Regions from separate parts of the Homo sapiens genome. Here region 1 is linked to region 2. Evidence: fine-mapped expression QTL. A gene starts in region 2. The other region holds a variant in brackets. All regions are shown on one strand. Distances are from middle to middle. Region 1 overlaps LINC01491 (long intergenic non-protein coding RNA 1491). Region 2 holds the start of FBN1-DT (FBN1 divergent transcript).

Region 1 (5,372 bases), 810 kb after region 2:
CTGCCCCCTTAGGCTGATGGAGCCACAGTTTCTTGCATTCAGATTTTTTTAGGTGTAGATTAGGTGCCATCCTCTTCATCTCTCAAATTCCAGAGGACATATATCAAACTTTCTGAGTGGGTCCTTTCAAGTCCTTCTCACTTCGCTGAAAAAGAGGGGGATGCACCTCTGTCCTCAGAGGGGAGGTTATGAGGGAATATATGGCACATAAACTGTCTCTCAAAATATATGCACCAGCACTTTTATAGCTTCATTGAAGCATAATTGATGTATGAAACAACTGCACATACTTAAGATGTATAATTTGATGGATTTATCATACACAAACACGCATGACTAAAACTACAATCATGATAATGACATATCCATTACCCCAAAGGTCTTCTCATGCCACTCTGTGCTCCATGCCTCCCTGACCCCTGTCCTCAGGCAACCACTGATCTGCTTCCTCACTTTATGTTTCCTAGATTTTTGTGTAAATGGAATCAGTCTGGTTTGGTTTTCTGTTTTGAGGGGGTGGGAGGGTTGGCTTCTCTTCTTTCATTTAGAATAATTATTTTGAGATTCATCCAGGTTATTGTGTGTTTGAAAAGTTTGTCCCTTTCTACTGCTGAGTAGTATTCCATTGTATGGGTGTACCATACTTACATTTAGGTTGCTTCCAGGTTGGGGTTATTACATAAAAAGCTGCTATCAGAATTCACATACAAGTCTTTGTGTGAACATATGCTTTCATTTCTTCTGGATCAATACCTAGAGATGGAATGGTTGGGTTGTATGATGCCTATATAGTTAACATCTTAAGAAATTGCTGAACTGTTTTCCAAAGTGGTCGTGCTGTTTCACATCCCTTCCAGCAGTGTTTAGGAGTCCGAGATGCTGCACATCCTCACCAGCACTTTAACTTGAGTTGCTCTAATGAGTGTGTAGTGGTGGCACATTGAGGCACTACAACTTTTGGAACCCTCAATGCATTATTTGCCTTCTTCCCTATACAACTTATATTTGGCAAAGCGTTTTTTAAATCTCCTGAGCTGAGGAGCTCAATAAAATGGGGTTGGAGGAGGGTCTCTGACATCTGTTTTATTAAAATTGAGCCTTGGGGTCTCTAGTGAAACTTAGAGAAATAGGGGAAGTAACCCCTCACATCCTACTGACCTTGCTGAGAATGTACAATGTAATACACCTGCATGGGCATATGGATTCATTCACCCATACCAGCTGATAAGGTTTGGATCTGTGTCCCCACCCAAACCTCATCTCGAATTGTAATCCCCATAATTCCCATGTGTCGAGGGAGGGACCTGATGGGAGGTAATTGGATTATGGGGGTGGTTTCCCTCATGCTGTTCTTGTGATAGTGAGTTCTCACGAGATCTGATGGTTTTATGTGTTTGACAGTTCCTCCTTTACATGTTCTCTTTCTCTTGCTTGCTGCCATGTAAGACATGCCTGCTTCCCCTTCTGCCATGATTGTAAGCTTCCTGGGGCCTCCCTAGCCATATGGAACTCTGAGTCAATTAAACCTCTTTCCTTTGTAAATTACCCAGTCTCAGGTAGTTCCTTATAGCAGTGTGAAAATGAACTAATACACCAGCTTTCTCTGCCAAACCGGAACCCTGATTATCACCAGCAACTATTCTCATTTTCCCAGATTCTCCAACAAGAAGAGGCTTTATTCCCTTAGCTCTAATCTGAAAACATTCAAGGCAGGACTGTGATTGCCCTTGTTTAGGTCACATTCCCATCCTTGATGTCTTAGTTTGGTTCTCCCCCAAAGCAGATTATGATATAAGGGTTTGAATGCAGGTCGTTAATTTGGGAGCCTGGTCCCAGGGAGCACTGTGAAGCAGTGGAGCAGTGAGGCAGGAAGAAGATCAGTACAGAATTTGGTAACGACAGTGGCATCCACAGCTCAACCATGCTCAGGACCCTCTGAGTTTGTGAGAAGTACATCTCAGAATTGCCCCCAGCGGAGGGTGTGGACACTAGGCTATTAAGCCATCATCTTCGGTTCTTGCTGGTTGGAAGTTCCTTCCAGGGACACTACCTCTCAAGCATTCTGCTGCCTGAGCACTCTGGCTGGACTTGTTCTCCAGCCAGACTCTTGCTTAGGCAGGGGCTACAGTGGGCAGTCAGCGTGAAGGACAACTGTCTGCAGGAGTCTTTGGGGGTAGACTGAGCAGTTGCGGGTGGGCGACCACTAGTGCTGCTACATCTGGATATCCTGGTAATATGACTTCCAACCTAAGCTAGGACCGGGAGGGGGAAAGAGACCAGGGAAATGAATTTCACAGAAGAATGTGTAGGAGTTGTTCTAGGTACATTCATTGGCATCTGCTAGGAGTTTTACAGAAACAATTTATGGTGGTAAATTGCTGACTAAAATCTTTGCAAGTTTGTTTCAAAATGTTTTAAAATGAAATCCTAAAAGGTAGCCTTAATGTAACTTTTTACTCCATAATTATTTATTCCTGGTACTCTCCCAGAGATCTCACCTAATAATAGAGACTCTTCCCTTTTTTCATTGTTTGCCTTTATCCTTTGGGGAAAACTTTCACCCTTCAGATAGTGAAAAAACTTATTGAGCAACTGCTGTGTGACTGGCTCTTGTATCAGGTACTAAGGATGCTAAGATGAATGCCCTCAGGCTGTGGAGGTAAATTCTGTGTGTCTTCCCACCAGCTGGATCAGAAGACCGAGGTTCCTGACTAAGAATGTCACATGAGGCTTTCCCTCTTTCTTCTTACTTCCTCTGATTCCAGAATGATGTTTTGAGCACAGCATGTTCACCTCTTTACAGAGTAAGAACAGCTTCTTGTCTTTAGGGTGCAATTTTAAAGAGAAATGTCGCTACTTTTTCCCTGCCAATTTTGAACACTAGACTATGGTTTCTCCAAA[T/C]TTGATGCTTTATCACATTCCAGGTAGTATAATCTTTATATTATCAACGTGTACACTCCCTTGCTTTTCCTAGCTGTGCCTTTTTTTCCTTCCTGGAATTTATATTTCTGTCTCCCATCTGCCAGCCTTTCCCATAAACTCTCAGGCACAGAATTTATTTCAATTTTCTGTAATCTCACTTTCTAACACCAATAAATAATCCACCTATCTCTGTGAGGCCCTGCTGACCTTTTGCTTCTCATCAACTTGATATATTTTTACTTTCTGTCTTTCGTTTTTACATATTTTCACTTTGGTTCTCTGATCTGGCCTCCTTTCCCCCAGTTTTGCACCCTGGCTATCTGGTGGTGGCTTCTCAGCCCCTACCTTGTACTTCTTTTCCTTTGCAGGGATCCCCAGCTGCAAGCTCTTTCACTACCATCTGACGTGTCCTCTGTGCTCCTGCTTTTCTCATCAGGGCTGCTGTCTGCTTAGCGGCTTGGGTTGAAGCTTCTCTTGGACCCTGGTTCGTTCGCCTGCTGTGCCCTTCTCCTCTTGCTTCCCTGGCCTGTACTCACTGAATTCTCTTCTTTTATCTGACTCTTCCAAATGGGGAATTTGCAGAAATTGGAAAGCATCTTTACCCAGCCAGCACCACCATTAGTGCCCATCACCCACTTATTGCAATGGAACACTGGAAGTTCACAAGAGGGTTGATTTTGTTGGGTGACACTGTGAGAAATGCTGATGATGCCTTAAGGTCTCTCTTCTGGCACAGGGTCCTCCTCAGCTCCACTGGACCCTCCCTCCTCTAGTGCCTGCTGTGAACCTATTGTTCTGTGCTAATAGATTTGTTTAATATTTTATTTTGACAGTTCCAAATTACAGAGAAGTTGCAAGAAGAGTACAAAAACCTCCCATATGCTCTTCCTCCTTAGTCTTCCCTGACCTCCATGACCCTGATATTTTTGAAGATTGTAGACTAGTCATTTTTTGAATGTTCTTCAATTTAAGTTTTCCAAAGTTTCCTCATGATTAGACATCAATGATATATTTTATGGAGGGAATACCACGAATGCTGTGTTCTTTGCAATGCATTCTCTCAAGTGGCACACAATGTCTGTCATGTTACTGACGGTGTTAACATTGATCACTTGGTTGAAATGGTGCCTGCCAGATTTCTTCACTGTAAAATTATTCTTTCTTTGTTATTAATAAATATAATATGGGTTGTACTTTGACACAATGTAAAATCCCATTCCTCATTTAGCTTTTACCCACGATTCTTTGTTTTTTTTTTTTTTTCTATTTCCCAGCCAAGGTTTTTTATTTTTTTTTAAGTTCTGGGGTATGTGTGCAGGATGTGCAGGTTTGTTACATGGGTAAACATTTGCCATGGTGGTTTCTTGCACCTGTCAAACCATCAGCTAAGTATTAAGCCCAGCATGCATTAGCTATTTTTCCTGATGTTCTCCCTTTCCCCGCCCCTTCCCAACAGGCCCCAGTATGTGTTGTTCCTCTCCTTATGTCCATGTGTTCTCATTGTTCAGGCCCCACTTATGAGTGAGAACATGAAGTATTTGGTTTCCTTTCCTGTATTAGTTTCCTGAGGATAATAGCTTCCAGCTCCATCCATGTCCCTGAAAAGGACATGATAATTGTTTCTTTTTATGGCTGCATAATATCCCATGGTGTGTATGCACCACATTTTCTTTATCCAGTCTACCATTAATGGGCATTTGGGTGGATTCCATGTCTTTGCTATTGTGAAGAGTGCTGCAATGAACATACATGCTCATGAATCTTTATAATAGAATGATTTATATTCCTTTGGGCATATGCCTAGTAATGTGATTGCTGGGTCAAATGGTATTTCTGCTCCTAGGTCTTTGAGGAATCACCAGACTGTCTTCCACAATGGTTGAACAAATTTACATTCCCACCAATAGTGTAAAGGCATTTCTATCTCTCCACAGCCTCGCCAGCATTTGTGATTTCTTGACTTTTTAATAATCACCATTCTGACTGGTGTGACATGGTATCTCACTGTGGTTTCGATTTGTGTTTCTCTAATGATCAGTGATGTTGAGCTTCTTTCACATGTTTGTTGGCTGTACAAGTGTCTTCCTTGGAGAAGTGTCTGCTGATGTCCTTTGACCCTTTTTAATGGGGTTGTTTTTTTTCTTGTAAATTTGTTTAAGTTCTTTGTAAACTCTAAATATTAGACCTTTGTCAGATGGATAAGTTGCAAAAATTTTCTCCCATTCTGTAGGTTGTCTGTTTGTTCTGATAATAGTTTCTTTTGCTCTGCAGAAGCTGTTTAGTTTAATTAGACCCCATTTGTCAATTTTTGCTTTTGTTGCCATTGTTTTTGATGTTGTTTTCATGGAATCTTTGCCTGTGCCTATGTCCTGAATGGTACTGCCTAGATTTTCTTCTAAGGTTTTTATAGTTCTGAGTTTTACATTTAAGTCTTTAATCCATCTTGAGTT
Region 2 (5,372 bases):
ATGGCTTGGAGCTGCCACCCAATATGAAGGAAGAATCTTTCCTTTATTGGAGAAAGAGGCCAATGAATAAAGAGGAGGTTGCCGGGGAAAGCAAAGGCCAGGTAAAAACGTTTAATCCAAATCCCTCCCTTGGAGGTGAAACCCTGGAAGGCAGTTTGAGTTAGAAATAATAGAAATGTCCAGAAATGTTGGAAGAGGGGACTTGCAGGGCACCAGGATTTGGCCTTTACTTCCTGGGCAGAAGCCTTAGAAAAGGCTTGTGTTTGGTTGCTGCTGACCAACATGTCACTGAGTGTAAGATTCTGAGAGAAAGGGCACAGCATGTCTTGCATGCTGCTGGAGTACAAGGAAAGCATGCAGTTTCCAGAGTCCCCTGTGGGTGCAGAGCAGCCCAGAAAACTGGTGGGCAGGACAAGGCCTTTCTGGATGTCCAACAGCCCTGCTTTCTCCTAATCCATGGTCCCTCTGCTCAGATCCTTTTCCCAGTGTGAATTACCTCCTTACCCCTCCCTACCCAGGGAGCTTTAAAAAATATCCATGTGAAGAATCCACTACAGACTACTCAAATCAGAAACTCTGGGTGTTGGGGCCTGGTGTCAGTGTCAGATTTTTTTTTTTTTTTTTTTTTTTTGAGGCAGAGTTTCACTCTGTTCTGCCCAGGCTGTAGTGCAGTGGCACAATCTCCTCTCACTGCAATCTCTACCTCTCAGGTTCAAGCGATTCTAGTGCCTCAGCCTCCTGAGTAGCAAGATTTACAGGCATGCACCACCACACCTGGCTAATTTTTGTATTTTTAGTAGAGACAGGGTTTCACAATGTTGGTCGGGCTGCTATTGAACTACTGGTCTAAAGTGATCCACCCGCCTTGGTCTCCCAAAGTGCTGGGATTACAGGCCCAGGCATGAGCCACCATGCCCATCCTGGTGTCAGAATTTTTTTAAAGCCTCTTATTATTTTACTGCATAGCCAGGGTTGAGAACTGCTATCCTAAGTAGAGTCTAGTTATGTTTTAGACTTAAGTTAAATATCACTTCCTCAGGGATCCCTTTCCTGATCAGCCCTAGCCTAGGTCAAGTCCCCTTGTTATATATCCTCCAAGCAAGCACCCAGTACTTATCCTGTTTGGCGCTTAACAATTGGTCCATTATTTGTTTCAAGTCTGCCTTTCCTTGTTGACTACCTGCTGTGTGAGGGGAGACACATTTCTGCCCTTTTCACTAAATTGTTGAAGTCAGTCGTGTTCAAATTGTTGAACCTGCCTTGTTAAAATTGTTGAAGTCTAGTTCAACAATGCACTAAGTAGTACACAGTTCGTGCTCAGTAAAAACATCTTGAATGAATGATCTCCTTTACTCAGCCAGGAGTGTGTGACCAAGGCTCTCATTCATGAATCTGCTAAGAGACCTTTTGCAGGTGAGACCTTAAAGTACACCACATACATACTTACAGGACTATGGCTTTAGATCAGCTCATAGTTCCCACAGTTTTTCTGTTTCATCTTCATGTATCACAGCAGTTCAGCATGTCCATCATCACCATTACAACCCTGTGTGGTGGACACTACAAGTCCCATCTTGTATTTGGAAAGAAGTTGAATAACTTGCCCAGGTCTCTCTACCCTACTGTCTGGGCCCCTTTACAAACGGTTACAAATAAGGAAAATCCCTTTCAACAAGATACATTCCCAGGGTACCTGTTTGTGCTGAGCTTTTATTATTGGCTTGACAGCAGGCTGGTGGCTGCTTGCAGGGGATCTTCTGGGGGTCTCCAGTTACAGCAGCCAGGACCCAGTGTGCGACTTCAGGCCTTCCTAAACTGTTACAGGGTGCAGGCATCATTGGGCATTATCCATATAAGGATGCCACAAATACTATACCTTTCAAAGCCACTAAATTCACTGTGCCGCGCATATCCTGGGGAGAGGCAGCTGTGTGTGGGGGAGGGCGAGGGGACCGGGAGGGTGTAAGTAGAGTCCTCCAGATGAACCCCAGTCTTAATCTGGGCTGGGCAAGAGGACCATCCCTTCACCGCTCCCATCCTACATCCTAGGTTCCAACATTTACAGGCCCCTGGGTTGGACACCGACTTAGAGAGAGCACCCTGGATTCAGGCCTGGGTGGCTTGAATTGAGCCTCAGAAGAGCCGCGTCTGGAGTGGGCTCTCGACACCCAGGGCAAGTGGGGGCGGCAGAGCCCTCTCCTCGGTCGGCACAGCAGCCTCTGCCGCGGTCCCGGCCTGCGACGCGCCCAGTCTTAGCCTCCCGGCCTCCGGCGTCTGCTGAGTGTCCGGCGGGAGAGGCGCAGGGAGCGCGCTACCGGGAGGCGCGGGCAGCGGGGACTGGTTTTCTCTCGGGCCAGGGCCTCCGGGGCAACCGTCTCCAGCGCGCATTCTTGGTGCAGGTGGAACAGCTTTCTGCTCCGGTAGGGCTTCACCTATCGCGGGAGAGGTTAATCTCGGATCTAAACCTCGCAGCCGCAGAGCGGGCTAAAACCGCTACTCCACCTCTTCCCATTTCTCCCCTCCCCACCTCAAGACAAAAAGTCCCAGGCCGGGCAGGACCTGATCACCTCTGCCTCCTCCCACTGCGCTAATCCTGCGAGCGAGAGGCCCCGCACCGAGGCGGAGGCTGGCAAAGGGGAGTGGAAAGGGAGGATGGATGGGGCCGGGGGGTGGGGTGGTGATGAGGGCGACGAAGGAGGGGGTGTCATTTTCTTTTTCTTTCTTTTTTTAAAAAAAGTATTTCTCTCGCGAGAAACCGCTGCGCGGACGATACTTGAAGAGGTGGGGAAAGGAGGGGGCTGCGGGAGCCGCGGCAGAGACTGTGGGTGCCACAAGCGGACAGGAGCCACAGCTGGGACAGCTGCGAGCGGAGCCGAGCAGTGGCTGTAGCGGCCACGACTGGGAGCAGCCGCCGCCGCCTCCTCGGGAGTCGGAGCCGCCGCTTCTCCAGTGGGTGCAGCCGGGGTCCCGACGGGGGTCGGGCGGCCACCGGGGCTGGAGCTGCGGCCACGGAGGCTTTTGCGTTTGCGCCGCGCCGAGGGCAGGGACAGGGACTGGGGTGAGGGGCTGTCCCGGAACGTCCACAGCTGGCGCTGGCCCTCCCCTGCCTGACAGCTTCCTGGCCCGGGGCTCTTGGTGCCGGGCTCCGCGTCAGATGTTCGGGGGGCGGTGGCATCGCCCGGAGTCGGCGGGGACGGCGCGGCTGGCTTCCAGCCTGGCGGAGAGGGCAGGCTGAGGAGTGGGGCGTTCAGAGCGCGCATCGCGCGCAATTCGTGCCGCTAAAAAAAATAAACCCAGAGAGCTCGCCCGGGGCTTAGGACCGCTGGGGATATGGGTACTTTGCGCCGCGCTCTTCTGGCGGGGCCCGGGAGGCCGAGGGATCGGCCGGGGCTGCTGCCGCCGGGGGCCTGGGCTTTCCAGCCAGCTGTGGACCAAACGGTCTTCCCTTACCCAAATTAACTGCGCCACGCGCAGGCGGCGCACGGGTTGGGCTTGGGAATGGGGACCGCGAGGCTTCAGCATCCCGATGCCCTGAAAGTCTCCCCGCCTCGGGGATTTGTCTCTGTGTTGCAGCTGGCAGGGGCCGCCTGAAGTGGGAGCAGCGCCTGGAGAAGGCGGGAGGAGCCCGGCCCGGGGGACGGGCGGCGGGATAGCGGGACCCCGGCGGCGCGGTGCGCTTCAGGGCGCAGCGGCGGCCGCAGACCGAGCCCCGGGCGCGGCAAGAGGCGGCGGGAGCCGGTGGCGGCTCGGCATCATGCGTCGAGGGCGTCTGCTGGAGATCGCCCTGGGATTTACCGTGCTTTTAGCGTCCTACACGAGCCATGGGGCGGACGCCAATTTGGAGGCTGGGAACGTGAAGGAAACCAGAGCCAGTCGGGCCAAGAGAAGAGGCGGTGGAGGACACGACGCGCTTAAAGGGTAAAGGAACCGGTTCCCTCCTTTGGTGTGGGTCTCCCAAGTTTCAAGATCCAGAACAACGGGCAGGATGACTCTCCCTGTGGAAGACTCCTTGGCAAGACCTCCTGGGGGCACCTTAGAGGTGCTAGGGTTGTTTAGTCCCCACCCCGTTCGTGGTTAAACTACCTTGCCCCTACTCCCAGAGATTTCTGCCCCAAAGGAGAGGACGTGGTTAAATGGAATCTTGGGCCATTGTTGAGGCAGATTTTGGGAGGCGAGAAGAGTTCCTTGGGGAAGAAGGGGAGGAGTTGCGAGTGGGATAAGAGGAGAAGCCCGTTCCTTTCCCTGCAATATCAATTCTGGTTGTTTCTAGAGGAAAGTACTTTCCTTGGGGTCATCTTGGTAGATGCTGTATTTGAAAGGGGGCAAGGAAAGGAAGGGATTCCCATGACAGTCAGAGGAGAAATCACACAGTAGTTGACTCTTCCGTAAATTATGCTTATTAAAATTACGGATTGGGTTTTCTGGGCAATGCTTCCTTTAGATGTCTACATTGGAAGCAGAACAGGGCAAGTGGTTCTGAGAACTGGTTTTTTGAGTTGTGTGGGGCTCTCCGTTTCACTGCAGCAGTAAGGCTGCTGTGGCCGGCCTTAAGGGAGTATTTTTAACTAGTGGTGTTTGTGTTGTGTACATGCAACTGACCATTTCACTGGCTTCCCATGCCGCTGTTACAGATGTTTCAGCCGGAAAAATTTTAATTAGACTTGACTAAGGGTTGTCATTTTCCTGTATTGAAGGACAGTGGGAATACATTTCCTTTAAGAGAAATTTGTCTGCAGTTGTTTAAGTTAAAGCCTCCATGGAAACAACAGGATGGACTGTCAGTGACCCCTTTTATCTTCTTGGAGGAGCCTGTTAAATAAATTCAGACAGTATATATAGGGAGATTTTGTATTAAATTCTTACCATTCTCGCTGATGCTCTTTTCCTGAGTGGTTCTGTAGCTTTATTATATAGCTCTGGGTCACCAAGTGATGGTATCCACTTGGATATGTGGCTGTTCATTTCACTTACTCTTTTTTTGTTATGAGGTGTTATAGTCATGTATATGTAGTAAAATTTGTGTTTGTATGGCCCAGATATGAGAAGAAAAAGTAAACTCACCAGACCAGTTTTTGACTCCTAGTCTGGAGTAAGGACAAGATGATTGTATGAGCCAAGCACTTAGGCTGTGATAAAATAGCACAGAAAATAGTTATGATTAATTCGGTTCCATCTTGGCCTTCGTGGAAAATAAACCCAGAATTCCGATAATGTTGGAAGGAAGTTTGCTTATCATGGTAAACCTGACCTTGATCAGACAGCAGATGTTTATTGCCCTGTGTGCAAGGCACATGGCAAGTTCAATAAGTAGACTGAGGCTCTGATTTTCATATGTTCTCAAGAGGACCTCATTTAGTCCAGTATTTTTCCTT

The links. PIP is the estimated chance that this variant, and not a neighbour inherited with it, causes the effect. A credible set is the group of variants that fine-mapping cannot tell apart.
Region 1: its variant is the best candidate, but not a certain one, in a credible set for the expression of FBN1-DT in aorta (GTEx, PIP 0.73).

Annotation. Positions count from the first base shown.
Region 1 is chr15:47,831,562-47,836,933 of GRCh38, reverse strand. All of the region lies in intron 2 of LINC01491 (long intergenic non-protein coding RNA 1491), which reads left to right. Among named protein-coding and RNA genes, the nearest start is that of LINC01491, 12 kb to the left of the region's middle. The variant T/C (reference allele first, on the strand shown) is at 2,902.
Region 2 is chr15:48,643,152-48,648,523 of GRCh38, reverse strand. FBN1-DT (FBN1 divergent transcript) reads right to left here and starts at 2,719. Exons shown (of 2, transcript NR_183872.1): 1 at 1,694-2,719. FBN1 (fibrillin 1) reads left to right here and starts at 2,815. Exons shown (of 66, transcript NM_000138.5): 1 at 2,815-2,949; 2 at 3,574-3,918. The coding sequence starts at 3,755. RefSeq lists enhancers at 2,651-2,740, 2,253-2,777 and silencers at 2,851-2,930, 2,971-3,150, 3,561-3,690, 3,791-3,840.